Regions from separate parts of the Homo sapiens genome. Here all the other regions are linked to region 3. Evidence: fine-mapped expression QTL. A gene starts in region 3. Each other region holds a variant in brackets. All regions are shown on one strand. Distances are from middle to middle.

Region 1 (10,852 bases), 53 kb after region 3:
ACCGGCTCGCTTTGCGCCCTCCGCCTCCTCCCGAAAACGGGCCGCGGGCCGCTCCCACAATGCACCGGGCGCGGCCGGGCTCCCTTAAGCGTCGCCTGAATAAAAATGCCGCGCCCGGCGGCGGCGGCGGCGGCGGGGGCCCGGGCCCGCGCCTGGGCGCCGCGGGGGCTCGCCTGCCTCGGCGCGGCCCTGCGGGAGCCGGGCCGCCGCGCTCCCGCCGGCTGGGCGCGCGGGGGTCCTTTAAGGCCGGCCACCTCCCTTTAAGAGGCGGCCCTGGCTGCTGGGTGGCGGCGTGCGGCCCGGGAAGGGGGCGGGGGCGCCGTGCAGCCCCGAGCGCGGCAATGATTGGTCTCGGGGGAGGGGTGGGGGGTTGCAAACCCGAGGAGCGGTGGCATCCGTTGCATGATGCAAAAAAGGATTGATTTCAAAAGTTGCGAGTTGCATTGGCAGCCGCCCTTGGCGCCCGGGCCACCTTTTTCCCGGGCCCCGCTGCAAGGGCCGGGAACGTTTCCGCCACCTGGCCGGGCTCGACCGCGCGGCGCTCTGCGGGGCGCTGTCCCCGCTCCCCGAGTGCGCAGCGGAGCGTCCTGGAAGACAATGACCATGGGAACAATTTGCACAGGAGGCTAGGAGCCCAGGAAAAGCCGCCTGGGCGCCAGGCAGAGGTTTTTTGAAAACACAAACGGCGCGTTAGATGCTTGGGGACTCCCAGCATCTGTCCTTCCTATTGTTTAGCTCGGCTCCGGAGTTCACGGGAGCCTCGTGAAATGTGGAGACGTCCTGCAAAGTTTCTTGAACACTTCATGTGCGTGGTAGGAAGTCGAGGAAAAAGGTTTACGGTTCCCCGCTGGTTGCATTGTTTGTCCTGCACATGTTCGAGCGAACATGGCAGCCGCAACCCTGGATGTGTTCGAATTGACATCGAGGGGGGAGCTTCACGTCGTGAAATAACTTTTTTCTGGGCTTTCGAGATTCTAAAGCATTGCTGATGAAAATAAACCAAATACTTTCAGATATCGTTTAGGGCTTCTCTCTAAAACAGCAGTGTGCAGGAATGCCGATCGAACTTTTCTAGGCAGTAGGTCAGCATTTTCCAAATGTTATTTGGGAGCAGAAATGTTTTGGGTCACTGGACCGTGCTTTACGTGGCACGGCAGGTTGGCACGCTACGCAGATGCCCTTTTCGTTAACATTTCCGCTTGCCAGTTGCTCCGGGTTTTAATCCTGGGCTGGATGCAGAAGTGATGCCACCTCGAAGACAGGCTGCTCCTGTCTTTGTGTACTTTCTTCATACCCTGTAGTAAGTTTGCAAAGAACGTGTTAGTCTGCATTCTTTTATTTTATATTTATTTATTTATTTATTTTGAGACGGAGTCCCACTCTGTCGCCAGGCTGGAGTGCAGTGGCGCGATCTCGGCTCACTGCAACCTCCGCCTCCTGGGTTCAGGTGATTCTCCTGCCTCAGCCTCCCCAGTAGCTGGGATTACAGGCGCCTGCCACTGGAGGATGGCTTCTCCCAGAGGGGAAGACAGGGTCACGGTTCTCATTAAGAGGGTATTGTACTAGTCAAGCCCGGAGATGTACTTGAACTGAAAGCAAGGGGAATGCAGCCCAGGGAAGGGATTTGGTGTGATTTAGCACGTAGGAAGGAGAGGAAGAAGGATAAGATGACCCCCAGGTTTCCAGTTTGCGGGGGTGGGGGGTGGGGGAGGGAATGAGGAGCGATGCTAATAATTTATCTAAGAACTGCTGAAAGGCAAACAAGTTTCGGGGTGAGTTCAGCTTTGGAAATGTTAAATCTGAGGTCTGCCGGATGGTGTGGGGGTGGGGCTCAGAGTTGCAAATCTCAGGTCTGCCGGATATTCCAGACCAAAGTTAATAGGGAAACAGGTCCGGAATTTGGTGTGGGGATGGGGCTCAGAGATGCAAATCTGGGTGCCATCAGCATGTAAATGGTGTTCGAAGCCTCCGTAAGAGGTGAGATTAACCCCGAAGGGAGAGCTCAGGAAAAAAGTGAAAGAGACCTTGGACAGAGCTCTGCAGAACTTGGAAATCAAGTGGCTGGGCGGGACAGAGGCCGATCCCCGCTGCGTCGGTGGGAGGCCACCATCCTCAGAACCGACTCTTCCTCCCCGCCTCCACCCACCACGAGCTCACCGGGAAGCAGTTCTCTGCCGCAGAGGCCGTAAGCCACAGATGCCTTACTTCATCCAGGGCCACACTACAGCCTTGGCCCAGATCATCTGGCAGAGTCATGCATCCTTTTCTTTGCCGGTGATGAGAGCTTCTTCCTTGGGTACTGCTTTGAGCTAGTCCTACGCTCCCCCGCAACTCCCGGGCTCACCAGAACCCCATTCTAGGGAGCCATCCCCGCTGGATTCTCAGGCTCTGCTGGTTCCGTCCAAGAGATGGTTCTCCTGGGTTGCATTGTCTGGTTGGGGCTTATTAAAAATACCAGTTTACCGCTGAGCAGGGTAGCTCAGGGTGCCTGTAACCCCAGGGCTTTGGGAGGCCAAGACAGGAGGATCACTTGAGGCCAGGAGGTTGAGACCAGCCTGGGCAACATAATGAAACCGCGTCTCTACAGAAAATTTAAGAAGTAGTCAGGTGTGATGGCGCATGCCTATAGTCCTAACTACCTCAGAGGCTGAGGTAAATCATTTGAGCCCAGTAGTTCAAGGCTACATTGAGCTGTAATCGTGCCACTACACTCTAGCCTGAGTAACATAGCAAGACCCTGTCTCAAACAAAACAGAACAAAACAAAAAGAACTAATTTACCAGCTTCACTCACTTGAAAGATTACAGCTAGCAGATACAATGGGTTGAATTATGTCCACCACAAAAGGTGTGTTGAAATCCTCACTGCCCCCCATACCTGTGAATGTGGCCTTACTTGGAAATAAAATATTTGCAGATTTAATCAAGGTAAGATGAAGTCATACTCAATTGTGATATGCCCTAAATCCTATGGCTCATATTCTTAGAAAAAAAGGAATATTTGGGCTGGGCGTGGTGGCTCA[T/C]GCCTGTAATCTCAGCACTTTGGGAGGCCAAGGTGGGCAGATCACTTGAGGCCAGGAGTTTGAGACCAGCCTGGCCAACATGGCGAACCCCATCTCTACTAAACGTACAAAAATTAGCTGGGCGTGGTGGCATATGCCTGTAATCCCAGCTTCTCGGGAAGCTGAGGCAGAAGAATCGCTTGAACCCAGGAGGCAGAGGTTGCAGTGAGCTGGGATCATGCCACTGCACTCCAGCCTGGGTGACAGAGCAAGATGTCTCAAAAAAAAGAAAAAAGAAAAAGAAAGAAAGAAAAGAAAAGGAAGATTTGGAGACAGCGGCACAGAGGAGACACAGGGAAGATGGCCATGCATGTGAAGACCGAGACAGAGGTTGGAGCAATGCAGCTACAAGCTACAGCGGAGGTTGCCGTCAGCATCAGAAGCTGGGAGAGGCAAGGAGGAATTCTTCCCTAGAGCTTTCAGAGGGAGCGTAGCCCTGCCGACACCTTGGCTTCCCGCTAGCAGCCTCCGGGATTTAAACTACCCAGCTTGCGGTCCTTTGTTATGGCAGCCATGGGAAAAGACTCCAGCAGGTCGGAGGTGTATGTGGTGGGGAAGGGATGTGAAGAATCCCCATTTTGCCAGGCTCCCTGGGTGATTCTGATGCTTTTGAAGAACACTGACCTAAGAATTCCACTTCCTCTGAAACCCAGAGGGACGAGAGGCTGCCTGTTCTATACCCCACATCCTGCTCACCCCAAAACAGAAAAGCAGCTCCAGTGACATCACCTTCCTGTCACCTGCCCTTCTCATTCGGGGCTCATGCCATCCAACACTGCCACCATCTGCTGCCAGAAGTGTCACTCCCCTGCATGGTTTGAATCATGCCCATTCAAAAGTGGCCCCTGCTCTGTCATCCCAGGGGATGGAGAGGGTCCATTCTCAGGAATAGCACCTGCTAGATGATGGATGTGCAAATCTGATGACCTTGACCTTAACTCCACTTTAGACACCCATTGTCTTGGCCGTGCTGTGAACCTTCTCGGCCCTGGAAATCTTTCATTTTTTATTCGTTTAGAGATGAGCTCTCGTTATGTTGCCCAAGGTGGTCTCAAACTTCTGGGCTCAAGCAATCCTCCCACCTCAGCCTCCTGAGTAGCTGGGACTACTACCATGCTTAGCTAACCCTGGAAATCTTAAACACCAACACCCTCTCCCCCGTCCCTGAGTCCTCTCCCTTCTTTACATAGGACACCCACACTCTAACTTCATGGGGGCCACCAGTCTCCTGAAGTGGATCCGTTTCATTCTGTTCAGCTTGGACCGTCTGAGGGTAGTTCTGCAGCCTCATCTCACCTCAACCCATTTCATTGACCATGTTCACCCCCACATGTCCAAACTTAAGCCCCTCTACCTGCCTTCTTTGTCCTTCCACTGGGCTGGAGGAAACTCAGAACTTAGAGATCCTGCCATGATGGGCATGTCAGCCCCCAGTGCCAGCCGGGCTTTTCTGACACCTCAGAAATCATTGAGTATGTTATTCCTGATGTTCATTATTCTCCCCAAGGGCTGGTTCACACTTTGCTGCCTTCAAGAGCAGATGCACCTTACAGAAAAGAATTCATGTCCTCAGGGGAAACCCTGTAATTCCCCCACCCTTCCCTGGCCCCACTAGACTCCTCTGACCTCCAGGGTCAGTGTCTCAGAGACAGGACTGCCCTCTGCCGGTCCCAGGCTGGTCCCTGCCTGTACCCTGACTTCCACCCCTCCAACAATAGCTAACCTTTGTTGAGGATTCACTACATACCCCACTGCACAGTGTTTTAAAGCACTGCTTTTAGAATTCTCCCCACAGTCCCCTGCGGTAGGTTTTCCTTTCATGGGGATGGGAACCAGGGTTCCGACTAATTAAGTAATTTATCCAAGGTCACTGTCTTAGTTTGGGCTCCCCCAAAGTAGACCTGGAGACAAGGATTAGGGAGAAGGGAGTTAGTTAATTTGGGAGGTGATCCTAGGAAACATAAGTCATGAAGCAGACAGGAGGAAACAGAAAGGAGAAAGCCGGAAGGAATGTTAGAGTGGCCTACCAACCGTGGGCACCTGGGACTCTGCCCTGTTGAGGCTGCTCTGAGAAATGGTACGGACCCCCTAGGGCAGGCAGATGAATGACGAACTCCAGTAGGTCTATGTCCCAAGCCCCAGAGCCTGTGACTATGTCATGTTACAAGGCAAAGAGGAATTTCAGTTGCAGGAATTGAATGTACTGATCAGAGCCAAGTGTTGTAGTTCATGCCTCTAGTCTCAGCTACTCGGGAGGCTGAGGCTGGCAGATTATTGGAGCCTAGGAGTTCAAGGACACAGTGAGGTATGATTGTACCACTGCACTCCAGCCTGGGTGACAGAGACCCTGTCTCTTAAAATAATTAAAGAAAAATTTGCTCATCATTTGAGCTTAAAATAGGGTGGTTATCTTGGATAATCTAGGTGGATCCAAGGTAATCACAAGCCTCCTGAAAAGTGGAAGAGGGAATAGAGAGCTGGAGAGATGGGAGCGTGAGAAAGAATTAGACTGACATTGCTAGCTTTGAAGATGGAGGAAGCGGCCACAAACTGAGGAAAACAGGTGCCCCCTAGAATATGGAAAAGACAAGCAGGTTCTCCTTTAAAGCCTCTGGAAGAGAATACATCTAGCTGATAGCTTGATCTTAGCTTAATGATATCTGTGTCAGACTTCTGGTCCACAGAACTGTCAGATCATAATTCAAGCTGTTATAGGAGAGGGGCCCTGATCCAGACCCCAAGAGAGGAATCTTGGATCTCGCACAAGAAATAATTCAGGGCAAGCTGGGTGCGGTGGCTCACGCCTGTAATCCCGTCGCTTTGGGAGGCCGAGGCGGGTGGATCACCTGAGGTCGGGAGTTCGAGACCCGCTTGACCAACATGGTGAATTCCTGTCTCTACTAAAAATACAAAAATTAGCCAGGCATAGTGGCAGGCGCCTGTAATCCCAGCTACTCGGGAGGCTGAGGGAGGAGAATCGTTTGAATCCAGGAGGTGGAGGTTGCAGTGAGCCGAGATTGTGCTATTGCACTCAAGCCTGGGTGACAGAGTGAGACTCTGTCTCAAAAAAAAAGAAAGAAAGAATTCAGGGCAAGTCCACAGTGCAAAGCAAAATAGCAAAAGCAAGTTTATTTAATTTTATGTATGTATTTTTAAAAAACAAGTTTATTAAGAAAGTAAAGGAATAAAATAATGGCTACTCCATACACAGAACAGCCTTGGGGGCTGCTGGTTGCCCATTTTTATGGTTCTTTCTTGATGATATACTAAACAAGTGGTGGATTATTCATGCCTCCCCTTTTTAGACCATATAGGGTAACTTCCTGCATTGCCGTGGCATTTGTAAACTGTCATGGTGCTGGTGGGAGTGTAGCAATGAGGGCAACCAGAGGTCACTCTCATCACCATCTTGGTTTTGGTAGATTTGGGCCGGCTTCTCTACTGCAACCTGTTTTATCAGCAAGGTCTTTATGACCTGATTTTGTGCTGACCTCCTATCTCATCCTGTGACTTAGAATGACTTAACCATCTGGGAATGCAGCCCAGTAGGTCTCAGCCTCATTTTACCCAGCTCCCATTCAAGATGGAGTTGATCTGGTTCAAATGCCTCTGACAAAGCCACAAAGTTTGTGATAATTTGTCTCAACAGCAATAGCAACAAATCTGTCCCCTTAAACTCATGCTACTGGCAGGAAAAGAAGCCACGGCTCTATCCACTGACTCCTGTCCTTTGGTGGTTAAGGGTTGCCCCTGGATGTTAATTCCCCGGAACTCCCCGCACGTCCTCTCACTGGACTGGACAAGACTGAGAACTTCAGGGCCAGCAGAGCTGCCCTGGAGTGCTGGGCAGGCAGGTGATTGAGGTGGGATGCTCTCAGCGGGCTGGCCCCTGCAGCTTTGGGTAAGATCAGTGAGTCAGATGTCAATGGCGTGGGCAGTGCTACCACAGTGCCCAGCTGTAAGTAGTGAAACCAGGATTTGAGCTTGGGCTACGTCTGGAGCCCATGCACCCAGCCTCCAGCATTTGCTAGTCCCACTCTTTTGTTTGAAATTTTCAGGCAGGGCACAGTGGCTTATGCCTGTAATCCCAGCAGTTTGGGAGCCTGAGGCGGCTGGATCACCTGAGGTCAGGAGTTCCAGACCAGCCTGGTCAACATGGTGAAACTCCATCTCTACTAAAAATACAAAAAAATAAGCCAGGTGTGGTGGCAGGTGCCTGTAATCCCAGCTACTTGGGAGGCTGAGACAAGAGAATCACTTGAACCCAGGAGGTGGAGGTAGCAGTGAGCCGAGATCGTGCCACTGTACTCTAGCCTGGGCGACAGAGTAAGACTCCATCTAAAAAAAAATTGGCCAGGCATGGTGGTGGGTGCCTATAATCCCAGCTACTGGGGAGCCTGAGGCAAGATAATCACTTGAACCTGGGAGGCGGAGGCTGCAGTGAGCCAAGTTCACACCAATGCACTGCAACCCGGGCAATAGAAGAAGACTCCATCTCAAACACACACACACACACAATTAAAATTCATGTCACCTGTTTCTTTTAACCTTTTTTTTTTTTTTTTTTTTTTTGAGATGGAGTCTCGCTCTGTCACCCAGGCTGGAGTGCAGTGGGCGATCTCGGCTCACTATAACCTCCACCTACTGGGTTCAAGCAATTCTCTACCTCAGCCTCCCGAGTAGCTGGGATTAACAGGTGCCCGCCCCCATGCCTGGATAATTTTTTTTTTTTAATTTTTGGTAGAGATGGGGTTTCACCATCTTGGCCAGGCTGGTCTTGAACTCCTGACCTTGTGATCCACCCACCTCAGCCTCCCAAAGTGCTGGGATTACAGGCGTGAGCCACCGTACCCAGCCACACCTGGCTAATTTTTGTATTTTCAGTAGAGACGAGGTTTCACTGTGTTGGCGAGGCTGGTCTTGAACTCCTGACCTCGTGATCCACCCACCTCAGCCTCCCAAAGTGCTGGGACTATAGGCGTGAGCCACCATGCCTGGCCACACCTATTTTTTGTATTTTTAGTAGAGACGAGGTTTCACTGTGTTGGCCAGGCTGGTCTAGAACTCCTGACCTCGTGATCCACCCGCCTCAGCCTCCCAAAGTGCTGGGACTATAGGCGTGAGCCACTGTGCCCCACCACACCTGGCTAATTTTTGTATTTTTAGTAGAGATGAGGTTTCACTGTGTTGGCCAGGCTGCTCTAGAACTCCTGACTTCGTGATCCACCTGCCTCGGCCTCCCAGAGTCCTGGGATACAGGTGTGAGCCACCATGCCCGGCCTCTTTTTACTTTTTAAAATGGGGCCACTTGAACACTTAAGATGACACATGTGGTCACATCCACTTTCTAGTGGACAACACTGCCTTAAAGGATTCCTGGTTCCCAGACCCCAGACACAGGCATTTGGGCACCTACTTGAGTGTTACACAAACACTTCACATTCAACATGTTCCAGACCAAAATAATCATTTTCCTTCCCACTCTCCCTGTCCCATCACCCCCGACTATGTACTCTCTTGGCTGGTGGACAATCTCCTGTGTTGCACGTGGTGGAACCCTGGCCCATATGCTGAACTCCTCCCTCTCTTTCCAGTCCCTATTCTGAGTCAATTCTACCACCTTGATATTCTCCATCTCTCATCCCCACTGTTGTGGACTTAGCCTTATTTACGGTCTTTTGCTGTTTTGCTCATTTCCATCAGCCCAAAATGATCCATGCGGCTGGAATGACATTTATCAGAGGCAAACCTGATCATGTCCTTTCCTTGCTTAAAACTGCGCAGTAGCTCCCGTTGCCTGTGGCTCCATTTCTCAAAAAGTCTGGTCTTCATTCGTGGGTGTGCATGGATGAGTTAAGTAGGGCATGGAAGAATATTTTATTTTTGTAGTTAGGGGTATTCATTTCAACACCCACTGGAAGGATTTAACTGAAACATAAAACCTGTGATTTCACAGACATTATTGTTCAGAACAAAAGTGAGTCAATTTAAATAAAAGTTTAAAGAAACAATAGCACAGGCTGAAGTAATAGCACTGACCAAGTAAATAATAGCTACAGGATAAATTTCAGACTCCTTAGTATGGTAAAAAACTAAGCAAACAAAAAAATAAACGCTTTGTGACCAAGCCTCCTTCTCTCCCTTCCTTCCTTCTTTCCTTCCTTCCTTCCTTCCTCTCTCCCTCCTTCCCTCCTTCCCTCCCTTCCTTCCTTTCTTTCTCTCTTTCCCCCTCCCCTCTCCTCCCCTCCCTTCCTTTCCTTTTTAACAGAGTCTCACTGTGTTACCCAGGCTGGAGTGCAGTGGTGTGATCTCAGCTCACTGCAACCTCCACCTCCTGGGTCCAAGCAATTCTCCTGCCTCAGCCTCCCGAGTAGCTGGGATTACAGATGCCCGCCACCACGCCTGGCTAATTTTCGTATTTTTAGTAGAGACGGGGTTTCACCATGTTGGCCAGGCGGGTCTCAAACTCCTGACCTCAGGTGATCCGCCCGCCTTGGCCTCCCAAAGTGCTGGGATTACAGGCATGAGCCACAGCGCCCGGCCTACTTTTCTTTCTTTTTTGAGACTTGGTCTGGCTCTGTCACCCAGGTCGGAATGCAGTGGTGTCACCATACAGCTCACTACAGCCTTGAACTTCTGGGCTTGAGAGATCCTCCTGCCTTGGCCTCCCAAAGTGCAGAAATTACAGGCATGAGCCACCGCAGCCAGGCTTCTACTTTTCTTCTCTAATTTAATCTACCCTCTTCAGCCCTACAGCCACACTGAGTGGCTTCCAGATCTCTGGGCTCACTTCTCTTTCTTCACGAAGTGTCTCAGCAAGTACTATTTCTTCACCTGCTCTCCCTCTTCCACCCTCCTCACTTCTGGTGAAAATGGATAATAACTAAACTTGTGAGATTCAGCTCCAAGAGTCTCCTCTCTGAAGGGCTCTCTAGATACTCTAGGGAGAGTGAACACCCTATTCTTGGTAGACAGAGTAATAATCCCTGAAGATACCCTCATCCTCATCTCCAGAACCTGTGAATGAACATAGTATCTTCCGTGGCAAAAAGGGCTTTGCAGATGTGATTAAACTAACGATCTTGAGATAGGAGACTATCCCAGATTATCCAGGTGAGCTCAATGTCATCACAAGGGACACAGGAGGGTCCATAAGAAACGGATTCTCCCCTGAAGCCTCCAGAAGACACACGGCTCTGCCCACCCATTTTTATTTTTATGTATGTATGTATGTATTTGTTTGTTTGTTTTTTTGAGACGGACTCTCGCTCTGTCGCCCAGGCTAGAGTGCAGTGGTGCGATCTTGGCTCACTGCAACCTCTACCTCCTGGGTTCAAGAGATTCTCCCATCTCAGTCTCCCGAGTAGGGATTACATGCCTGGGATTACAGGCATGCGCCACCATGCCCGGGTAATTTTTGTATTTTTAGTAGAGATGGGGTTTCACCGTGTTGGCCAAACTGGTCTTGAACTCCTGACCTCAGGTGATCTGCCTGCCTTGGCCTCCCAAAGTGCTGGGATTATAGGTATAAGCCACTGCACCTGGCCTATTTTTATTTTTATATTTTTTACTATTTATTTATTTATTTATTTATTTATTTTGAGACGGAGTTTCGCTCTTGTTGCCCAGGCTGGAGTGCAATGGCGCAATCTTGACTCACTGCAACCTCTGCCTCCTGGGTTCAAGCGATTCTCCTGCGTCAGCCTCCCCATTAGCTGGGATTACAGGTGCCTGCCACAACGCCTGGCTAATTTTTTGTATTTTTAGTAGAGACAGGGGTTTCTCCATGTT
Region 2 (9,249 bases), 23 kb after region 3:
TGGCCACTTGTGGTGCGACCTCGATGATCCGGGGTTTGTCTATGATTCTGGCTGTGCGGTTGCCCTTCTCTACAATCCCAATAATCCATGCTTGGTGGCCTTCACCATATTTGGGGGACTTTATCTCTGCACAGAACCGAGCTGCTTGCTCACGTGGTAAACAGATCAGAAGGCCGCCTGGCAAAAGAAAACAAGAATGACTGTTAGTGTTGACATGACAGCAGCTTCTCTGCCTCTGCTGCTTCTGCAGAGATCCAACTTCCATCAACAACTTGCTGCCACCTATATGCAAGTAGCTCTTCCCATTCAACTAAGCAGCTTTTTTTTGAGACAGGGTCTCACTCTGTGGCCCAAGCTGGAGTGCAGTGGTACAATCACAGCTCACTGCAGCCTCAATGTCCTGGCTCAGGTGACCCTCCCACTTCAGCTTTCCCAGTAGCTGTGATTACAAGTGTGCACCACCACACCTGGCTAATTTTCTGTAGAGACAAGGTTTCACTGTGTTGTCCAGGCTGGTCTAAAACTCCTGGACTCAAGCAATCCACCTGCCTTGGCCTCCCAAAGTGCTGAGATTACAGGAATGAACCACCACTCCCAGCCTAAGAGGCCTGTTCTATGCTGTAATTAAGCAATTGCTAGTAAACTCCTAACACACACACATATACACTCCAACTTTCAACTGTGAAAATGACCTATTCGTGAACCACATAACACTGTGTAGGGGTAAGGTGTTTGGGGCTTCAATAACCCATGTGGTAGCTATTTTTTCCAAGCTACACTGAAACAAATATTGACAAACAAAAGGGAACTTTTGATTCTCTACATCGACTCTCTCATTTTACCGAGAATGCTTTTTTGTATTTTTAGAAAATTTAAGACTCATGAAACAGTGTATGCCCCAAAGTATCTAGGTTCCAGTCATGACTCTGTCATTATATCCAAAAGACAAACAGTATAAAATACATTAAAATAAACCTTTGTTGCTCTTTCCAGTAAATAGGCCATAAATTTTTTTTTTTTTTGAGACGGAGTCTCGCTGTCTCCCAGGTTGGATTGCAGTGGTGTGATCTCGGCTCACTGCAAGCTCCACCTCCCGGGTTCACACCATTCTCCTGCCTCAGCCTCCTGAGTAGCTGGGACTACAGGCGCCCGCCACCACACCCGGCTAATTTTTTGTATTTTTAGTAGAGACAGGGTTTCACCGTGTTAGCCAGGATGGTCTCGATCTCCTGACCTCGTGATCCACCCGCCTTGGCCTCCCAAAGTGCTGGGATTACAGGCGTGAGCCACTGCACCGGGCCAAAATTTATTTCTCTAAGTAGAAATAAGATGATGAGGAAAAACTGTAGTCTACTTCTACAAAATGTAAAAACCTTGTGGCTGGGCATGGTGGGTCACACGTGTAATCCCAGCACTTTGGGAGGCCGAGGCGGGTGGATCACCTGAGGTCAGGAGGTAGTTCAAGACCAGCCTGGCCAACATGGTAAAACCTCGTCTCTAAATTAGCTGGGCATGATGGCACAGCCCTGTAATCCCAGCTACTCGGGCTGAGGCAAGAGAATCGCTTGAACCGGGGAGGGGGAGGTTGCAGTGAGCTGAGATCGCGCCATTGCACTCCAGCCTGGGTGACAAGAGGAAAACTCCATCATAAAATTAAAAACTTCCTATTTCTGAAGAAAGGAAACAAATTTAAATGGCTGGTAACATTCGTCAATTCATTCAATTTCCATTCAGTGCCCAATTATGTGGCAGACACTGTCCTGGCCAGAGCCTGAACCAGCAGGGGAAAAAAACCCTGCCCTGTTGGAGCTTACTTCTAGAAAATGGTTTGTTTTTTTAAACGGGAGGCTGAAGCGTCCTCTATAAAGGCGGTGAGAGGCCTGGCAGAGTCCTGAAGCCCCCTCGCCACAGCACAGGTCGACGTGACCAGGGCTTTGTGGTCCCAGCACTGTGGTCCCTTGCCCCGGCCTACTACGGAATCTCCCAGGCAGCCTTCACAGATGCTGAGGCCCAGGCCCACCCGAGATGGATCCCACCGTTTTTGGGAGGCTGGGGCTAGGCATGTGTATTTTTCTTTTTTTTTTTGAGACAGAGTCTCACTCTGTCGCCCAGGCTGTAGTGCAGTGGGGCGATCTTGGCTCACTGCAACCTGTGCCTCCTGGGTTCAAGCGATTCTCCTGCCTCAGCCTCTGGAGTAGCTGGGATTACAGGGCACACGCCACGACGCCCCGCTAATTTTTGTATTTTTAGTAGAGACAGGGTTTCACCATGTTGGTCAGGCTGGTCTCGAACTCCTGACCTCGACCTCCCAAAGTGCTGGAATTACAGGCGTGAGCCACCAGGCCTGGCCGGCATGTGTATATTTAAAATCCTAAGGTGATTCCACTCTTTTGCGGGTAGAAAACTAGAGTTCTAGAGGAAAGGAAATAGAAAAAGAGAGAAACCGAAAAAAAGGGAAAAACAGGGAGACTTAAAAGATGAAAACAGTAAAGGTAAAGGGAACAAAGGGGGCAAAAGAGAAATGGTACTTCAGGAGGACGCGCCATCTGGCTCCAGCTGGGGCTGCGGGAGTGGGAATGAGCGATGGCGAGCCTGTAGGCTGTGGGTGGCGGCCTCGGCGGCCGGCAGGCCATGCTGGAGTACCTGCCATGATGAAGAGGAGGACGTCCCACAAGTTCCGGACAGATGTGGCCACCAAATTAATCAGGAAACAAAAGGAGCTTAATCTTAGAAAAATGATAAGGGATATAAAAGCTCCCTAGGAGTCAAACTACTGGGGCGTATGGTGTCAGACCTGCACTGCTGTCTGATGGCTCTCTCTACCTACGCTTGCTCCATCTCCCGTTTATCCTCCATTTATGTTTCCTCTAATAAATTACTGCACATCTAAGAAAAAAGAAAAATGGCATTTTAAAGACATAATATCCTATTGCATTCTTTTTTATTCTGTATCATTCTCTTTTCTTTTTTTTTTTTTTTTAAGGCAGAATCTCGCTCTGTCACCCAGGCTGGAGTGCAGTGGCGCAATCTCGGCTCACTGCAACCTCTGTCTCCCAGGTTCAAGTGATTCTCCTGGCTCAGCCTCCCAAGCAGCTGGGATTAAAGGCATGGACCACCACGCCCAGCTACTTTTTTTTTGTATTTTTAGTGAAGATGGGGTTTCACCATGTTGGCCAGGCTGGTCTTCAACTCCTGATCTCACGTGATGTGCCTGCCTCAGCCTCCTGAGGTGCCAGTATTACAGGCAAGAGCCACCACACCTGGCCCCTTTTCTCTCTATCATTCTTAAAACAACGTTAGACAATTTTCAAGGAAAAAAATATCACCTGTTCAAAGTAACCTAGGGGTATTACAGTTAATTTCAAATGCGAAGCTTTCAGTAAAAACTGAATGCTACCTTATTTCCCCCATCACCATATCCTTGCATCAAAAAGAGCACAGGCCACTCAACCTCAGCAAGGCTGCTGGATCCACCCAGGATGGCGGGGACCAGACCCACCGGGAGGAGGAAAGGCACCAGCTGCTGCGGAGGCCGAGGTCAGCAGCATGGAACTCGAACAGAGTGGGGGCCCACTCGGGGTGGGGCTGCTGCTTTCTCGCTGAGCTTTCTGTTAGCCTCACTATTTAGTCCTCAGATGCGCCCAGCATCCTGTACCTGAAGTCTCCGGGCAGGTCCCGTGCATGAGGCCGAACATGTTTCCGCAGGCCTTGCTCACCGCAGCCATCTTGGCCAG[C/G]ACCGGGAGGTTGTGAATTACAAACGACACCTCGTTCCTCTGCTGCTTGGCCAGGTTCTGCGCATGGCCCAAAATCCCGAAGCCCGTGATGTCAGTGGCGGCGTGGGCATTGAACGTGTGCATGAGTCCTGCAGCTGGGAGAGAGAGGGGGCGGCTCTGAGAAAAAACACCTTTCCTCAACTCAAAAATCTTACGTCCACAATTAATCTGCAACTTCCTTACTTGTCAGGGAGATGACGTATCGGAATAATGAAAACGCAATGTAAAATCAACCAAAGACATAGTGAAATTCCAAAAGTTCTTATTTCACTTTGAGCCACCTGAAAACTATCAGAAGCTTCAATTAATAGTAGTTTTCCAGTAAACTAAAAAAACTATGCAGAGGGATTATGATCTCAGTGGAAGGTAAACCGGCCAAGACCATCCTAAAACCAAAGACCGGCACTTTTTTCCTTTTTTGAGATGGAGTCTCGCTCTGTCATCCAGGCTGGGGTGCAGTCGTACGATCTCGGCTCACTGCAACCTCTGCCTCCAGGGCTCAAGTGATTCTCCTGCCTCAGCCTCCTGAATAGCTGGGACTACAGGTGCGCACCACCACGCCCAGCTAATTTCTGTATTTTTAGCAGAGACAGGGTTTCACCATATTGGCCAGGCTGATCTTGAACTCCTGACCTCATGATCCGCCCGCCCTGGCCTCCCAAAGTGCTGGGATTACAGATGTGAGCCACCACACCCGGCCAAGACCAGCACTTTTTAAGAAGGCCTTGCTCAGTATCAAGGTACTCCCGCGAAAGGTGAATTGCGTGCAAGTTTATTTTTAAATTTCTTTCTTTTTTTTTTTTTTAAGAGACAGAGTCTTGCTCTATTGACCAGGCTGGAGTGCAGTGGCATGATCATAACTCACTGCACTTGGGCTCAGGCAATCGTCCTGCCTCAGCCTCCCAAAGCGCTGGGATCACAAGTGTGAGCCACTGCTCAATAATATTCCATACTACAGATACACTACATTTTGTTTATCCATTCATCCACTCACCTACTATTATTTAATTATCCATTCACCCGACCTATTATTTAATTTTAAAAAAATTTACAGACTTTATTTTTTGGAGCAGTTTTGCGTTTAGAAAGAAATTAAGTGGGAAGTAACAAATCCTCAGTGCTCTGCTCTACCTGATCCCCTTCCTCTCCGATAACCTCTGGCCACCACTGATCCTTTCTGCATCTCTACAGTTTTGCAGAATGTCATGCAGTTGGAATCCTTCTGTATGGAGCTTTTTCAGACTGGCTTCTTTCACTTAGTAATATGCACTTAAGATTCCTCCACATCTTTTCATGGCTTGATAGCTCATTTCTTTTTACTGCTCAATTATATTCCATCATACAGATACACTACATTTTGTTTATCCATTCATCCACTCACCTACTGAAGAAATGAATGGCTGCTTCCAAGTTCTGGCAATTATGAATAATGCTGCTATGAACATTTGTCTGCAGGCTTTTGTGTGAATGTAAGTTTTCAACTTTTTTGAGTGAATATCAAGGAGCACAATCGCTGCATCATATAATAACATATTTAGTTTCATAAGAAACTGCCAAACTGACTTTTAAAGTGGCTGTGCCAGTTTTCAGTCCTACCAGTAATAAATGAGAGTTCCTTCCTGTTTCTCTACATCCTTGCCAGCAGTTGGTATTATCAGTGTTTTTGGGTTTTTTTTGAGACAGGGTCTCGCTTTGTCACCCAGGCTGGAGTGAGGTGGTGCGATCACAGCTTACTGCAGCCTCGACCTCCTGGGCTCAAGGGATCCTCCCAACCTCAGCTTCCCAAGTAGCTGGGACTAAGGCGCAAGCCACCATGCCCAGCTAATTTTTTGTATTTTTTTGGTAGAGATGGGGTTTCACCATGTTGCCCAGGCTATTCTCAGTGTTTTGGATTTTAGCCATTCTAACAGGTATGTGGTGGCATCTCAATCACTGCTTTAATCTACAGTTCCCTATTGACGTACCACACTGAAGGTTTCCTTTTATGCTTATTTGCCATCTGCGTTATCTTCTTTCATGGTGTCTGTCAAGGTCTTTGGGCCATGTTTAAATTGAGTTGTTTTTTATTATTGAGTTTTAAGAGTCCTTTGTATATTTTGGATACCTGACCTTGAACAGGTATGTGTTTGGCAAAATTTTTCTCCCAGTCTGTGGCTTGTCTTTTCATTTCCTTAACAGTGTTTTTCACCGAGCAGAAGTTTTTTATATTAATAAAGCCAAACTTAGCAATTTTTTAATAGATAGTGCTTTTGGTGTTATAAAGTCATCACCAAACCCAAAGCCACCTCAATTTTCTCTGATGTTACCTTCTTCCAGTTTTATATTGTTGTGTTTTATTTAGGTCTACGAATCATCAATATGGTCTGGCTCTGTGTCCCCACCTAAATCTCATCTCGAATTGTAATCCCCACATGTCAAGAGAGGGACCTGGTGGGAGGTGACTGAATCATGAGGGCGGTTTCCCTCGTGCTGTTCTCGTCAGGGTGAATGAATTCTCATGAGATCTGATGGTTTTGTAAGTGGCAGTTTCCCCTGCTCTTCTCTGTCCTGCTGCCTCATGAAGAACCTAGGTGCCTGTTTCCCCTTCACCATCTGCCACGACTGTAAGTTTCCTGAGGTCTCCCCAGCCATGTGAAACTGTGAGTAAATTAAACCTCTTTCCTTTATAAATTACCCAGTCAGCTGGGCATGGTGGCTCACGCCTGCAATTCCAGCACTTTGGGAGGCCAAGGTCAGGAGTTCAAGACCAGCCTGACCAACATGGTGAAACCCCGTCTCTACTAAAAATACCAAAATTAGTGGGGTGTGGTGGCGTGCGCCCTGTAATCCCAGCTACTCCAGAGGCTGAGGCAGGAGAATCGCTTGAACCTGAGAGGCACAGGTTGCAGTGAGCCGAGATCACCCCACTGCACTCCAGCCTGGGCGACAGCGAGACTCCGTCTCAAAAAAAAAAAAAAAAAAAAAAAAAAAAAAAAAAAAAAGAGACTCAGTCTCAAAAAAAAAAAAAAAAAATAATAATAATAATAATAAATGAATAAATAAATTATCCAGTCTTGGCTATTTATAGCAGTGTGAAAACACACTAAACATTCATTTTGAGTTAATCTTCACGAAAGGTATAAGATCTGCATCCAGAATAATTTTCTTCATGTGAATGTCCACTTGTTCCAGCACCATTTGGTGAAAAGACTCTTTTCTCCAATGAATTGCCTTTACTCCTTTGTCAAAAATCAGTTGACTAGGCCAGGTGCAGTGGCTCACGCCTGTAATCCCAGTACTTTGGGAGGCCGAGACAGGCGGATCACAAGGTCAGGGGTTCAAGACTAGCCTGGCCAACATGGTGAAAACCCATCTCTACTAAAAATACAAAAATTAGCCAGGCGTGGTGGCGGGCGCCTATAATCCCAGCTACTTGGGAGGCTGTGGCAGAAGAATCACTTGAAGTCGGAAGGCGGAGGTTGCGGTGAGCCAAGATCCTGCCACTGCACTTCAGCCTGGGCGAAAGAGCAAAACTCCATCTCAAAAAAAAAAAAAAAATCAGTTGACTATAATATGGACCTACCTCTGGATTCTCTATTCTGTTCCTCTGATCTATAACTTTTTTTTTTTTTTTGAGACATGATCTCACCCTGTCACCCAGGCTGAAGCGTAGGGGTATGATCACCACTCACTGCAGTCTCAACATCCTGGGCTCAAGTAATCCTCCCACCTCAGCCTCTCGAGTAGCTTAGACTACAGGAATGCACCAGGCGCAGCTAAAGAGACGAGATGGGGTCTCACTATGTTGCCTAGGCTGGTCTCCAACTGCTGGACTCAAGTGATCCTCCTGCCTCAACCTCCCAAAGTGCTGGATTATAGGTGTGAGCCACTGTGCCTGGCTATAACTTTCTTACAAGTAACAACAAATTACAGAAAATTTTTATTTCCAAATGAATTGTAAAACAATAGGTAAAAGATAATTGTGGTACATTTCTCTGGTAGAACATTATCTAGTCATTAAAAATTATGTGTACTATGGCTCACGCCTATAATCCTAGCACCTTGGGAGGCCAAGGAGGGTAGATCACCTGAGGTCAGGAGTTCGAGACCAGCCTGGCCAACATAGTGAAACCCTGTCTCTACCAAAAATACAAAAATCCGCCGGGCATGGTGATGATGCGTGCCTGTAGTCCCAGCTACTGGGAAGGCTGAGGCAACAGAACTGCTTGAACCTGGTAGGTAGCGGTTGCAGTGAGCCGAGATCACACCAATGGACTCCAGCCTGGGCGACAGAGTTAGATTCTGTCTCAAAAAAAAAAAAAAAAAAAAAAAAAAAGTTTACTAGGATACATAATATGGGAAACATTAGTCATGTCAAAACAACAAAAGCAGGCACTCCAAATACATATACTAACCATTACATAGTGAAAACTTATACTAACCACTACTTTAAAACAACAATAGTAAATCACCAGCCAAACATGAAAAAAAGTCCTGGAAGAATACATAAAAATGCTAGCCGGAGCTGTTTTGGGTGGAGGGACTATGGACAACTTTTTTCTGTACTATTTTCCATTTTCTAAAAACTTTTCTATAATAAGCATGTAATTCTTTTATAGTAGAAAAAATGTATAAAATAAATGGGAAGAGAAGACATATTAAAAAACGCTTTCTAAACATAGTGTGCCATTGTAAACTGTGGTGAACACTTTGGAAGACAGTTTGGCACTATCTATAAAAGCTGAGCCAGTACTGATCTCTTACACGTGCCTCAGAGGGCTGGGCCAAGGAAGTCCATAGCAGTCGCCCCAGTGTGAAACAGGAGAGCAGAGAAGCCAGTGGAAAAATCAACACAGCCAAAAGGAATCTACTACAGCTACATATAACAAGGAGACTCTCAGGAACAATGGTGAACAAAACAAGTAAAAAAAATGCAAAACTAATTTGCTGCTTAAGAACACAAGGGCTGTGCAATAAAAATATTCTAAAATGCAAGAAAATAAACACAAAATTCAGTGGTTACACCTAAGCAGGAATGCAGGGGATGGGTGGGAGTGGGGGCACTTCTAGACTTCCAAGGTTATGTTCTGGAAATAGCTCCAGTATCTTAAACTTTCTAAATTTCCATTCTGAATGGTTTGCTTCCAAATCTTACATAGGTAACCCACACAAACGCTTTCTAGAAATAGTTCCTCTGGTATGTCAGAAGTTAGGACTTCCTTCTTAATTATAAAGCACTGTAAGTCAGGGACCATCTGCAGTGATCTATGGAATGCCAACCTGGTACCAGGAGAAGACGGTCTGTAGTCACTGGCCAAAAATCTGGCCACCTACCCTGAGACAGTATGTGGCCAGAAAAGCCTAAGACATTTACTGTCTTGGACCCCTGGGACCGAAGCGCCCTTCCCACCTGTCATACCTGTCCTGTTGAGCCTCGCCATGTTCATCATCGCCTCCTGGTAGGCCAGCTCTACATCTTCTTGGGTGACCACTAGTT
Region 3 (11,066 bases):
AGGCATGGTGGCTCCCGACTGTAATCCCAGCAACTCAGGAGGGTGAGGCCAGGAGTTCAAGACCAGCCTGGGCAACATAGTGAGACTCCCTGTCTCTAAAAACAAAGAAATAAAAAATTAGCTGGGTATGGTGGTGCACAACTGTGGTCCCAGCTACTCAGGAGGCTGAGGCAAGAGGATTGCTTGAGCCCAGGAACTTGAGGCCGCAGTAAGCTATGATCGCACCACTGCACTCAGCCTACACAACAGAGTGAGAACCTTTCTCTATAAAAAATAAAAAGCCAGTCTGGCACCAGAGCCCATGCTTCTAAACACTTCCCAACAAACCAAATCATTAAAAAACATCTGTAAAGCCAGGAGCGAATCCACCTTGTATTCTCATTACATGCACACAATACATACTATTGTAAAATAACAAATAGTGTTACTGTACCGAAAGCGTTGAATATCGGCATCAGGTACAAGATTTTTGATTACTAGAAACCCATTTTCTTCATAAAATTTTCTCTGTTCCAGGGTTAGAACGTTATTATCCAGAGTATACCTAAAGGAGAAAAAGAATCCCAAAATAAGTTACATTTTTAAATTACAGGCTAGGCACAATGGCTCACACCTCTAATACTAGCACTTTAGCGGGCCGAGGCAAGTGGATCACTTGAGGTCAGGAGTTTGAGACTAGCCCAGGCAACATGATGAAACCCTGTCTCTACAAAAAATACTGGTTGTGCCACTCCACTCCAGCATGGGCGACAGAGTGAGACCCTGTCTCAAAAAAAAAAAAAAAATTTAAATTACATCCTAAAAATATGTATCAAGAACCTGAGGCTAGGCGTGGGGGCTCATGCCTATAATCCCAGCACTTTGGGAGGCCGAGGCAGGTGGATCGCCTGAGGTCAGGAGTCTGAGACGAACCTGACCAACATGGTGAAACCCCATGTTTACTGAAAACACAAAGTTTAGCCAGGCATGGTAGTGGGCACCTGTAATCCCAGCTACCCGGGAGGTTGAGGCAGGAAAATCGCTTGAACTTGGGAGGCGGAGGTTGCAGTGAGCTCTGATCATGGCACTGCACTCCAGCCTGGGCGACAGAGCCAGACTCCGTCTCAAAAAACAAAAACAAAGACAAAAACAAGAACCTAGGAAACGTTCATGCTCTTCAATTCAGCATTTCTAAGACCAAGGAAATAATCTGAAAACTTACGCTTTATGTCACCAAAACAAGTGCATTAGTGGGCCGGGCACAGTGGCTCATGCCTGTAATCCCAGCTTTTTGGGAGGCTGAGGCAGGTGGATCACCTGAGGTCGGGAGTTCGAGACCAGCCTGACTCACATGATGAAACCCCATCTCTACTAAAAATACAAAAATTAGCGTGCCTGTAATCCCAGCTACTCAAGAGGATGAGGCAGGAGAATCGCTAGAACCTGTGGGGGTGGAGATTGCAGTGAGCCAGGATTGCACCAGTGCACTCCAGCCTGGGTGACAGAGCAAGGCTCCATCTCAGAAAAAAAAAAAAAAAAAAAAGTGCATTAGTGGAAGAAAAATTAACTAGTGACACTATGTTCACTCAGTGGAATATGACTCAGACATTAAAAATTAAGGCCATATAATAGTATGGATGGCGGGCACAGTGGCTCATGCCTGTAATCCTAGCTTTGGGAGGCTGAGGTGGGCGGATCACGAGGTCAGATCGGGACCATCCTGGCTAACACGGTGAAACCCGCCTCTACTAAAAATGCAAAAAATTAGCCCGGCATGGTGTCTGGCGCCTGTAGTCCAGCTACTGGAGAGGCTGAGGCAGGAGAATGGCGTGAACCCGGGAGGCGGAGCTTGCAGTGAAGCAAGATGGCACCACTGCACTCCAGCCTGGGCGACAGAGCCAGACTCGGTCTCAAAATAAAATAAAATATAATAAAATATAATAAAATAAAAAATAGTATGGACAATGCTTATTATAATAAAATATTATTACAATTATGTAAAACCAAGACACTATATGAAAAAAAGAAAAGCCTGCAAAGAAATACACCAAAGCAATTTTTAACAGTGATTGCCTTTAGAAATGGAATTAGGGATGATTTTTTAAAATTCCTTCTATTTCTCTGATGTTTCTGTAATGAATACATATGATTTTTCAGATGGGAAACAAATTCAATAAATTGTATATTTTTAACTGTCCAGTTGATGCATTCCAAGAAGGTAAAGTAACAAAATCCAAATAAATGTACAGCATACCCATAAACTCAAATCACCCAACCTATTCCTTAAGATCGGAATTGTGGTTGTATGAGAATATTTAGGAAGGTCAAGATCTTCCCCTTTAAAGGTGATTTAAGATAAACCAAAGATGCTAGCTAATATGTCCATATAACCAAATACAAGCTAATTTGTTTTGTTTTGTTTTGTTTTTTGAGATGGAGTCTGGCTCTATCACCCAGGCTGGAGTTCAGTGGCGTGATCTCAGCTCACTGCAACCTTGACTTCCAAGGTTCAAGCGATTCTCCCACTTCAGCCTCCTGAGTAGCTGGGATTATAGGTGCACACCACCATGCCCAGCTAATTTTTGTATTTTTTCATTTTGTAGAGGTGGGGTTTGTAGAGATGTTGGCCAGGCTGGTCTCGAACTCCTGACCTCAAGTGATCCACCTGCCTTGGCCTCCCAAAGTGCTGGGATTACAGGCATGAGCCACGGTGCCCGGCCACAAGTTAATTTAAATGAGATGTTTAACTGAATTTTTAAAAGTCAGATTATAAGGCTGGTGTGATGGCTCAGGCTGCAATCCCAGCACTTTGGGAGGCCAAGGCAGGAGGATTGCTTTAGCCCAGGAGTTCAACACCAGCCTGGGCAACATAGGAAGGGCCCGTCTCTATTAAAAATAAATAAATAAATGTCGGATTATGTATTTTCTGGTATTTTTCCTTCTTTCTGAATCTTAAAATACATACAGAAAATTAGTCGGTCTCCAAAATTTTCCACAAGTGCACTAATTAGAATAAGTCCTGGAAACAGAGGATTTGTATAATAAAATTCTAATCAGGTAACATATTATGTGGTATATCTTCATTACCACTCAAGAAACTTTTATATACATAATATATTTCAAAATCAAAACTCAAACTACTTACTGGAATTGTTGAGGATGGAAACTGGCAGAGGAAATAGTCCCTGAAGTGGGATGAGCTACCTAGGATGTGAATTAAGGCAAATAAAGTAAAATATAGAAGGCCAGGCACGGTGGCTCATGCCTGTAATTCCAGCACTTTGGGAGGCTGAGGCAGGAGGATTACTTGAGCTCAGGAGTTCGAGACCAGCCTGGCCAACATGGTGAAACCCCATCTCTACTAAAAATACAAATTAGGCCGGGGGCGGTGGCTCACGTTTGTAATCCTAGCACTTTGGGAGGCCGAGGCGGATGGATCACCTGAGGTCGGGATTTCGAGACCAGCCTGACCAATATGGTGAAACCCCATCTCTACTAAAAATACAAAAATTAGCCAGGCGTGGTGGCGTTCATTTGTAATCCCAGCTACTGGAGAGGCTAAGACAGGAGAATTGCTTGAACCTGGGAGGTGGAGATTGCAGTGAGCTGAGATCAGGCCACTGCATTCCAGCCTGGGCAACAGAGAGAGACTCCATCTCAGAAAAAAAACTACCACCACTACTACTACTACTACTACTACTACTACTACTACTACTACTACTGCTACTACTACTACTACTAATAATAATAATACAAATTACACTTGGGAGGCTGAGGCAGGGGAATGGCTTGAACCTGGGAGGCGGAGGTTGCAGTGGGCCGACATTGCAGAGTGCGGCACTGCACTCCAGCCTGACCACAGAGCAAGACTCCGTCTCAAAAATAATAATAATAATAATAATAATAATAATAATAATAATAATAACAACAATAACAACAACAACATAAATTCGCCTGGCATCGTGGCGCAACCCTGTAGTCCCAACTACTTAGGAGGCTGAGGTGGAAGGATCTCTTGAGCCCAGGAGTGAGCCGAGATCGTACCACTACTGCACTCCAGCCTGGGTGACAGAGTGAGGCCCTGTTTCAAAAAAAAAAAAAAACCAAAAAAGCAAAACCCTAGAAATTCCTTTTAAAGATCTCCTTTCTATCCGGTAACTGCAGAGAGTTGACATAGAATTGCATTGTTTCTTTAGCTTAATCGGTTACTTTCGGAATGTCACTCTCATCAATTAACATGTTATCCTTTCTTTCTCTCTGTTTCTCTCTTTTGGAACGCACTGGCCATCACGGCTCACTGTAACCCTGGACTCCTGGCCTTGGCCCCCAGAAGAGCCGAGACAACAGGCAAGGCGTGTGCCGCCGCGCCAGTCCTCACCCGCTGTCCTTCCCCAAATAGTGTCTTTATATAACTCAGTGGCAATGCCGTAGTCCAGCAGGGAGGCCGCCCTGGGCAGCGCCTGCCTGGCCAGCTCCTGCCCGGGAGGGCACCGTCCTCTCCCCTCCGGAGAGGTCCCGGTCACTGCCTGCCTGGGCCGGTTCCAGGCAGCCCTGCGCGCCTGTGCACCGTGCGCCTGTGATTGGACATCTCTGGGTCTCTGGACAGCTGCCGGGGTCACGCGCCGCCGGTGAAACGACGTCTCCACAAAGAGAGGAGCAGAGGCCCCCAGGGATCCCGGAGGGCAGGGCAACGCGGCAATTGCCCCGACCCCAGGGCGGCCGCGCGTGTCCTCGGGGGACGCAGCCTCTTCCCCGCTCCCCGGCTCCTGGAAGAGACGCGACCCAGGCGGGGACGCGGCGCTGAGCGAGGAGGCGCTGGGGCTGCGAAGCGTGCGACCCCGAGGCCTCCACCCGGACCAGGGCCACCACTCAGGCGGCGGCGCCGGCGCCGGATCCAGCCCGAGCCCCGCGCAGCCCAAAGGATACGACAGCCCCGGCCGAGGGGCGGCCGAGGTGGCCCAGAACAATCTGCAGACGGGCGGCGGCGCGAAGCTGCTCCATGGCTGCGGCGCGGGGAACCCCCACCCCTCCCGGCCTCTGCCCCATTTAGCCCAGCGGGCGGCTCCGCCTCCAGGCGCCGCCCCGGACTGGACGTAAGCGGGATTCCGGGCGGTGCCAGCTCGCGGGCCGGGCTGCTGGGGAGCCCTAGTCCGCTAGAGTCCGCGCGCCGGGCAACCGCCCGGGGCTGAAGTCCTCCCCACACCATGATCCTTCCGTCCTTTATTTTCTTTCTTTTTAAAAAGAAACAAGATCTTGCTCTGTCGCCCAGGCTGGAGTGCAGTGCGCGATCATAGCTCACTGCAGCCTTGAACTCTTGGGCTAATTTTTATTTTTTGTAGAGATGGGGTCTCGCTACGTTGCCCAGGTGGGTCTCAAACTCCCCCCGCCTCCCGTCTCGACCTCCCAAAGTGCTGGGACTACAGGCGTGAGTCATTACCCCTGCCCCGCACCCTGTTTCTGTTCCATCACCAGGACCCTCCCTGCCGCACCGAAGCTCGGGGGCCCAGTGACCAGGCCGAGGTCACACAGTGACAAGTGGCTGGGCTGGGACCTCACTCACTCTCCTAACGTCATGGCTTCCATCTGTTTAACCCTACGTGACTGCTCCTTCCACTGACAGCTGAAAGAATAAAATCTCCGATTTAAACAAAAAGTTTGCCGGGCGCGGTGGCTCACGCCTGTAATCCCAGCACTTTGGGAGGCCAAGGCAGGCGGATCACGGGGTCAGGAGTTCGAGACCAGCCTGGCCAACTTGGTGAAAACCCGTCTCTACTAAAGATACAAAAATTAGCTGAGTGTTGTGGCGCACGCCTGTAATCCCAGCTACTGGGGAGGCTGAGGCAAGAGAATCACTTGCAACCGGGAGGCGGAGGATGCAGTCAGCGAGATGGCGCCACTGCATTCCAGCCTGGGTGACAGGGCAAGACTCCGTCTCTAAACAAACAAACAAACAAACAAACAGGTTTTTAGCCGGGTGCGGTGGCTCACGCCCGTAACTCCAACACTTTGGGAGGCCGAGGCAGGAGGATCGCTTGAGCTCAGGATCGCTATAGATCGAAAGCAGCCTGGGTAACATAGTGAGAACACCTGATCTACAAAAAAATTAGCCGGGCGTCGTGGCGGGCGCCTGTAGTCCCAGCTACTCAGGAGGCTGAGGCAGGAGAACGGTGTAAACCCAGGAGGCGGACCTTGCAGTGAGCGAGATGGCGCCACCGCACTCCAGCCTGGGCGACAGAGCAAGACTCCGTCTCAAAAAAAATAAAAAATAAATCAATAAATTAAATAAATAAAAATTCCAGACATTGTATGAGGAAGCATTGCAAAACTTTCTGTTCTGTTAGCTGTTGCCTGTAGCCCCCAGTCATGTTCCCCACGCTTGCTCGATCTCTCACTAAACTTTCACGTAGACCCTTAGAGTTACAAGCCCTTAAAAGGGCCAAGAATTTCTTTTTCAGGGACCTCGGTTGCAAGTCTGCCGAAGTTCCCGGCCTAATACAGCCCTTCTTTAATCCGGTGTCTGAGTTTTGTCTGCGGCTCGTCCTGCTGCAGGAGGATCACCTGAGCCCGGGAGTTTGAAGTTGCAGTGAGCCCAGATCGTGCCTCTGCACTCCAGCCTGGGCGACAGAGTGAGGCCATGTCCAAAAAACACAAAAACAAAAAACAAACAAAACTCCAAAACATCAATGAAGTTTTGAAAATAAAAATAAAAAAATAAAAATGCTAAGATGCATCCCTAAAAGTCATATGTGCCATTCAAAAGGGGTATTTCATTTAGTGGGACTCCAGCCCAAAATATTAGAAAGTTCGGTTGGTCATAAAAAAAAAAAAAGTGAATAAAATAAATGACCTCCAGAAAAGTCTGATGCACACAGGCCAGTATGGTGTAAATTTCTTAGATAACTCCAGCATCTCTTTGTAAGATTTATTTTCCATTCCATAACTACGGATATTGACATAGCATCTCATTGTTTCTTTAGTTTCATTTTTTCATTGATTTTTTGTTCTTTTTTAGCTTCGAGTTACTTCCAGAACGTCGCAGCACACGTTATCACTTCCTGCATGACGTCTTTATAGAATTTGGTGACAATGTCGCAGTCCAGGAGGGAGGCCCGCAGCCAGCATCACCAGCCCCTTCCTGTTTGCACAGGCAGGGAGGAGAACGGCAGCTCCCAGGCTTCCACTGGGGAGTCCCTCCGGCTTTCTCCGGGATTCCGCCCGCCCCAGGGTCTCAGACCAACAGAAGGACCCGGGATCCCTCAGCAGCTCCGGACCTCATCTGCCCCACTTCGGCATCCCGCGCGGGAATATGACCATGTAGGAGTAACCCGGGGCTCTCAAGGACTCTACGGTTTGTCACGGTTTGAACGCAAGCGCAGGGCCTGGGGCGGGTGCAGGTGGAGGGTCGGCCTCTTTCTGCCCTTGGGAACGCCCCTTTCTGGATGTGGACCGGCGAGGCGGTCTCTCCTTTCTGCCCTCGCCTGGTGAAATGTGGGCACTGCTGCCAGGAGAAAAAAAACTGAAGCTGTGAATTCAGTTCATCACCCTTCCCTTGTTTATTAAAAAATCGGACCTTGGCCGGGCGCGGTGGCTCACGCCTGTAATCCCAGCACTTTGGGAGGCCGAGGCAGGCAGATTAGGAGGTCAGGAGATCGAGACCATCTTGGTTAACACGGTGAAGCCCGGTCTCTACTAAAAATACAAAAAAGTTAGCAGGGTGGTGGCGGTCGCCTGTTGTCCCAGCTGCTCGGGAGGCTGAGGCAGGAGAATGGCGTGAACCCGGGAGGCGGAGCTTGCAGTGAGCCGAGGTCGTGCCACTGCACTCCAGCCTGGGTGAAAAAATAAAAAAAAAAAAAGATCAGGACCTTTACCCGCGCTGACGGTGATTGGTTTTCATGACCAATAAAGAAATTCGAATGAGATGAAGCTACTTACACCTGTGTTTTTACTGTTCCTTTAAAATGCCCTAATTTCACAACCATGTGAAAATTCCTGCCATCTCTCCCCCAAGGCATTTATACAAGGATGTACTTAGATATTTAGATGTATTTAAATTTATGCTTTTCTTTTCTTTTTTTTTTTTTTTTGAGACGGAGTCTGACTCTGTTTCCCAGGCTGGAGTGCAGGGCGTGATCTCGGCTCACTGCGACCTCTGCCTTCCGGGTTCAAGAGATTCTCCTGACTCAGCCTCCTGAGTAGCTGGGATTACAGGCGCGCCATCAAGCTCAGCTAATTTTTTGTATTTTTAGTAGAGCCAGTTTCACCATTTTGGCCAGGCTGGTCTCGAACTCATGACCTCAAGTGATCCGCCCGCCTCAACCTCCCAAAGTGCTGGGATTACAGGCGTAAACCACCGCACCCGGCCCAAACTGATGCTTTTTACCGACAGATGAAGGAAATTCTTAAATGCTCACAATTGTTATCTGCCTTTTTAAAATTAGAGGGATGCTGGGTTTAACATTTTTCATTTAAGATCCCACGGAGAATTAACATAATAATTTCTCCGTAGGTAAAGAGGTAATTTGATGAATGTTACTAGTTTTCTTTCAAATAGCTATTTGGATTATTGGAAAATTCCCTAAGTAGGCATCTTTAATAATTATGTTATTAAAATAAAAATATTTTAGAACAATTGAAGCAGAACATTAATGGAATGTAAACATTATCACAAGAATGAAAAGTTCTTTCCCCTTTGGTATTAGGCATTTATTCATTTCTTATTAAAGTTGACCTTTTGAAGATTACTTCAAAATTAGCTTCCCCCCACTTCCAGTAATGTGCTTGGTTACTTACGTATTGAAAGTAACCTTGCAGACAAGTTTTGAAACACAATTTTCAAAATGATCTAAGGAATAGTTTTCCCCATATATATAAATTAAATGATTTGTTAAATAATAGCCATATTTGAACAGCTAAGTAAAATGTTTGAGTTTTAAAATCTTGGATTAAATTGTTCAAACTGGCTAGGGGAAGTGGGTCACGCCTGTAATCCCAGCACTTTGAGAGGCTGAGGCAGGTGGATCACCTGAGGTCAGGAGCTCCAGACCAGTCTGGCTAACATGTTAAAAACCCGTCTCTACTAAAAGTACCAAAAAAAAAAAAAAAAAAATTAGCTGGGCGTGGTGGCACATGCCTGTAATCCCAGCTACTCAGGAGGCCGGGGCAGGAGAATCGCTTGAACCCGGGAGGTGGAGGTTGCAGTGAGCCGAGATAGCGTCATTGCACTCCAGCTTGGGCAACACGAGTGAAACTCCATCTCAAACAAAGAAACAAACACAAAAACGAAAACCAGAAAACAAACAAACAAACAAAAACCCCAGAAAATTAGCTGAGCGTGGCACACCTGTAGTACCAGCCACTTGAGAGGCTGATGTGGGAGGATCGCTTGAGCCCAGGAGGTGGAGGTTGAAGTGAGCCAATATTGTGCCACTGCACTCCAGCCTGGGCGACAGAGCAAGACTGTGTTTCAAAAACAAAATAATAAATTAAATAAATAAATAAATAGTTGAAGCCAAGCATGGTGGCTCCCGCCTGTAATGTCAGCACTTTGGCAGGTCGAGGCAGAGGATTGCTTGAACCAAGAGGCTCGAGACCAGCCTGGGCAACATAGCAAGACTTCGCCTCTACAAAAAATTTTAAAAAGAAATAGCGGGGTGCAGTGGCGCACGTGTAGTCCTAGCTACTCCAGAGTCTGAGGCAGGAGGATTGCTTGAGCTCAGGGTTCTAGGCTGCAGTGAGCCATGATCCCCTACTGTACTCCAGCCTGAGTGATAGAGATCCTATCTCTAAAATTTATTTTAAAAAGTTTAAAAAGTTAGCTGGGTGTGGTGGCTTATGCCTGTAATCCAGCATTTTGGGAGGCTGAGGCGGGTGGATCACAAGGTCAGGAGTTTGAGACCAGCCTGGCCAAAATGGTGAAACCCTGTCTCTACTAAAAAAATAAAAAAATTAGCCAGGCATGGTGGTGGGCGCCTGTGGTCCCAGCTACTCAGGAGGCTGAGGCAGGAGAATCGCTTGAACCCGGGAGGCAAATGTTGCAGTGAGGTGAGACTGCACCACCGTATTCCAGCCTGGGCAACAGAGAGAGATTCCAAAAATAATAATAATAACAATAATAAGTTGTTCAAGCATTGTACACACTTAAGGAAATGTCATTATATGAATAAAAAATTATCTGCAATCAACTCCAGATTCAAAAACTCTGAGAATAGATATTACTGTAGGTGAGGTCATTTGGTTACAAGTTTTAAAGTTCGTTTAGAATATAGTGGCTCACACCTGTAATCCCAGCATTTTCAGAGGCTAAGGCAGAAGGATCACTTCAGGCCAGGAGTTCAAAACCAGCCTGGGCAACATTGCAAGACCCCATCTCTGCAAAAAGTTTAAAAATTAGCCAGGTATGTAGGCTGGGTGCGGTAGCTCACGCCTGTAATCCCAGCACTTTGGGAGGCCGAGGTGGGCGGATCACCTGAAGACAGGAGTCTGAAACCAGCCTGGCCAACACCCTGTCTCTACTAAAAATACAAAAACTAGCTGGGCATGGTGACGCATGCCTGCAGTCCTGGCTACTCAGGAGGCTGAGGCAGGAGAATCGCTTGAACCTGGGAAGGGGAAGTTGCAGTGAGCTGAGATCGCGCCACTGCACTCCAGCTTGGGCAACAGAGCGAGACTTCGTCTCAAAAAAAAATAGCCAGGTGTGGTGGTACGCACCTGTAGTCCCAGCTATTCAGGAGGCTGAAGCGAGAGGATCTCCTGCTTTTCTCGAAGCCCATTTCTGATGTCAGCTATAATGAAAACAAGTCTGAAGAATGGAGACATCTGTGGTGCAAAGAAATATCTCATCTTCCAACCTAAATTAGAAACTAAGAAATATAGGTGTGTAAATCTGGGAGAAGAGGAAAGAATAAAATTATCACTTATGGAATTATTTGGATTGAGAGGCCCGGGGTAAATGATCTACCATGAAATAAACACAAATCAACCAGCAAACCTCTACACAATTATTGGGTACCTAATTTGTACCGAGCTGTCTAAAAGAAACAGGGAAACATAGGAGGGGGTACAGCAATGATCCACGTAAGCAGAGGGAA

Alleles and levels. Alleles are on the strand shown, and positions count from the first base shown. SD is a standard deviation of normalised expression in the study named. Not every link is listed here.
For the expression in ileum of the gene that starts at base 5,002 in region 3, C is the high allele of the variant in region 1 and T is the other (small effect, 0.27 SD a copy in GTEx).

Evidence for each region. PIP is the estimated chance that this variant, and not a neighbour inherited with it, causes the effect.
Region 1: its variant is fine-mapped to the expression of PHYH in ileum (GTEx, PIP above 0.99). The same link has a PIP of 0.9 or more in unexposed skin.
Region 2: its variant is fine-mapped to the expression of PHYH in whole blood (TOPMed, PIP above 0.99).

The regions. Positions count from the first base shown.
Region 1 is chr10:13,347,998-13,358,849 of GRCh38, forward strand. It overlaps SEPHS1 (selenophosphate synthetase 1), which reads right to left and starts at 296. Exons shown (of 9, transcript NM_012247.5): 1 at 3-296. RefSeq lists silencers at 1-61, 192-411, 7,415-7,568 and enhancers at 481-1,271, 1,272-2,063. The variant T/C (reference allele first, on the strand shown) is at 3,023.
Region 2 is chr10:13,319,180-13,328,428 of GRCh38, forward strand. SEPHS1 (selenophosphate synthetase 1) reads right to left here. Exons shown (of 9, transcript NM_012247.5): 7 at 9,172-9,249; 8 at 3,656-3,868; 9 at 1-177. Among named protein-coding and RNA genes, the nearest start is that of PHYH, 24 kb to the left of the region's middle. The variant C/G (reference allele first, on the strand shown) is at 3,735.
Region 3 is chr10:13,295,063-13,306,128 of GRCh38, forward strand. It overlaps PHYH (phytanoyl-CoA 2-hydroxylase), which reads right to left and starts at 5,002. Exons shown (of 9, transcript NM_006214.4): 1 at 4,906-5,002; 2 at 3,125-3,183; 3 at 434-544. The coding sequence starts at 4,980. It overlaps LOC124902377 (a long non-coding RNA gene), which reads left to right and starts at 5,127. Exons shown (of 2, transcript XR_007062056.1): 1 at 5,127-5,344; 2 at 6,992-7,906. RefSeq lists enhancers at 3,992-4,612, 5,189-5,328, 6,704-7,204, 7,061-7,350, 7,541-7,690 and a silencer at 4,589-5,008.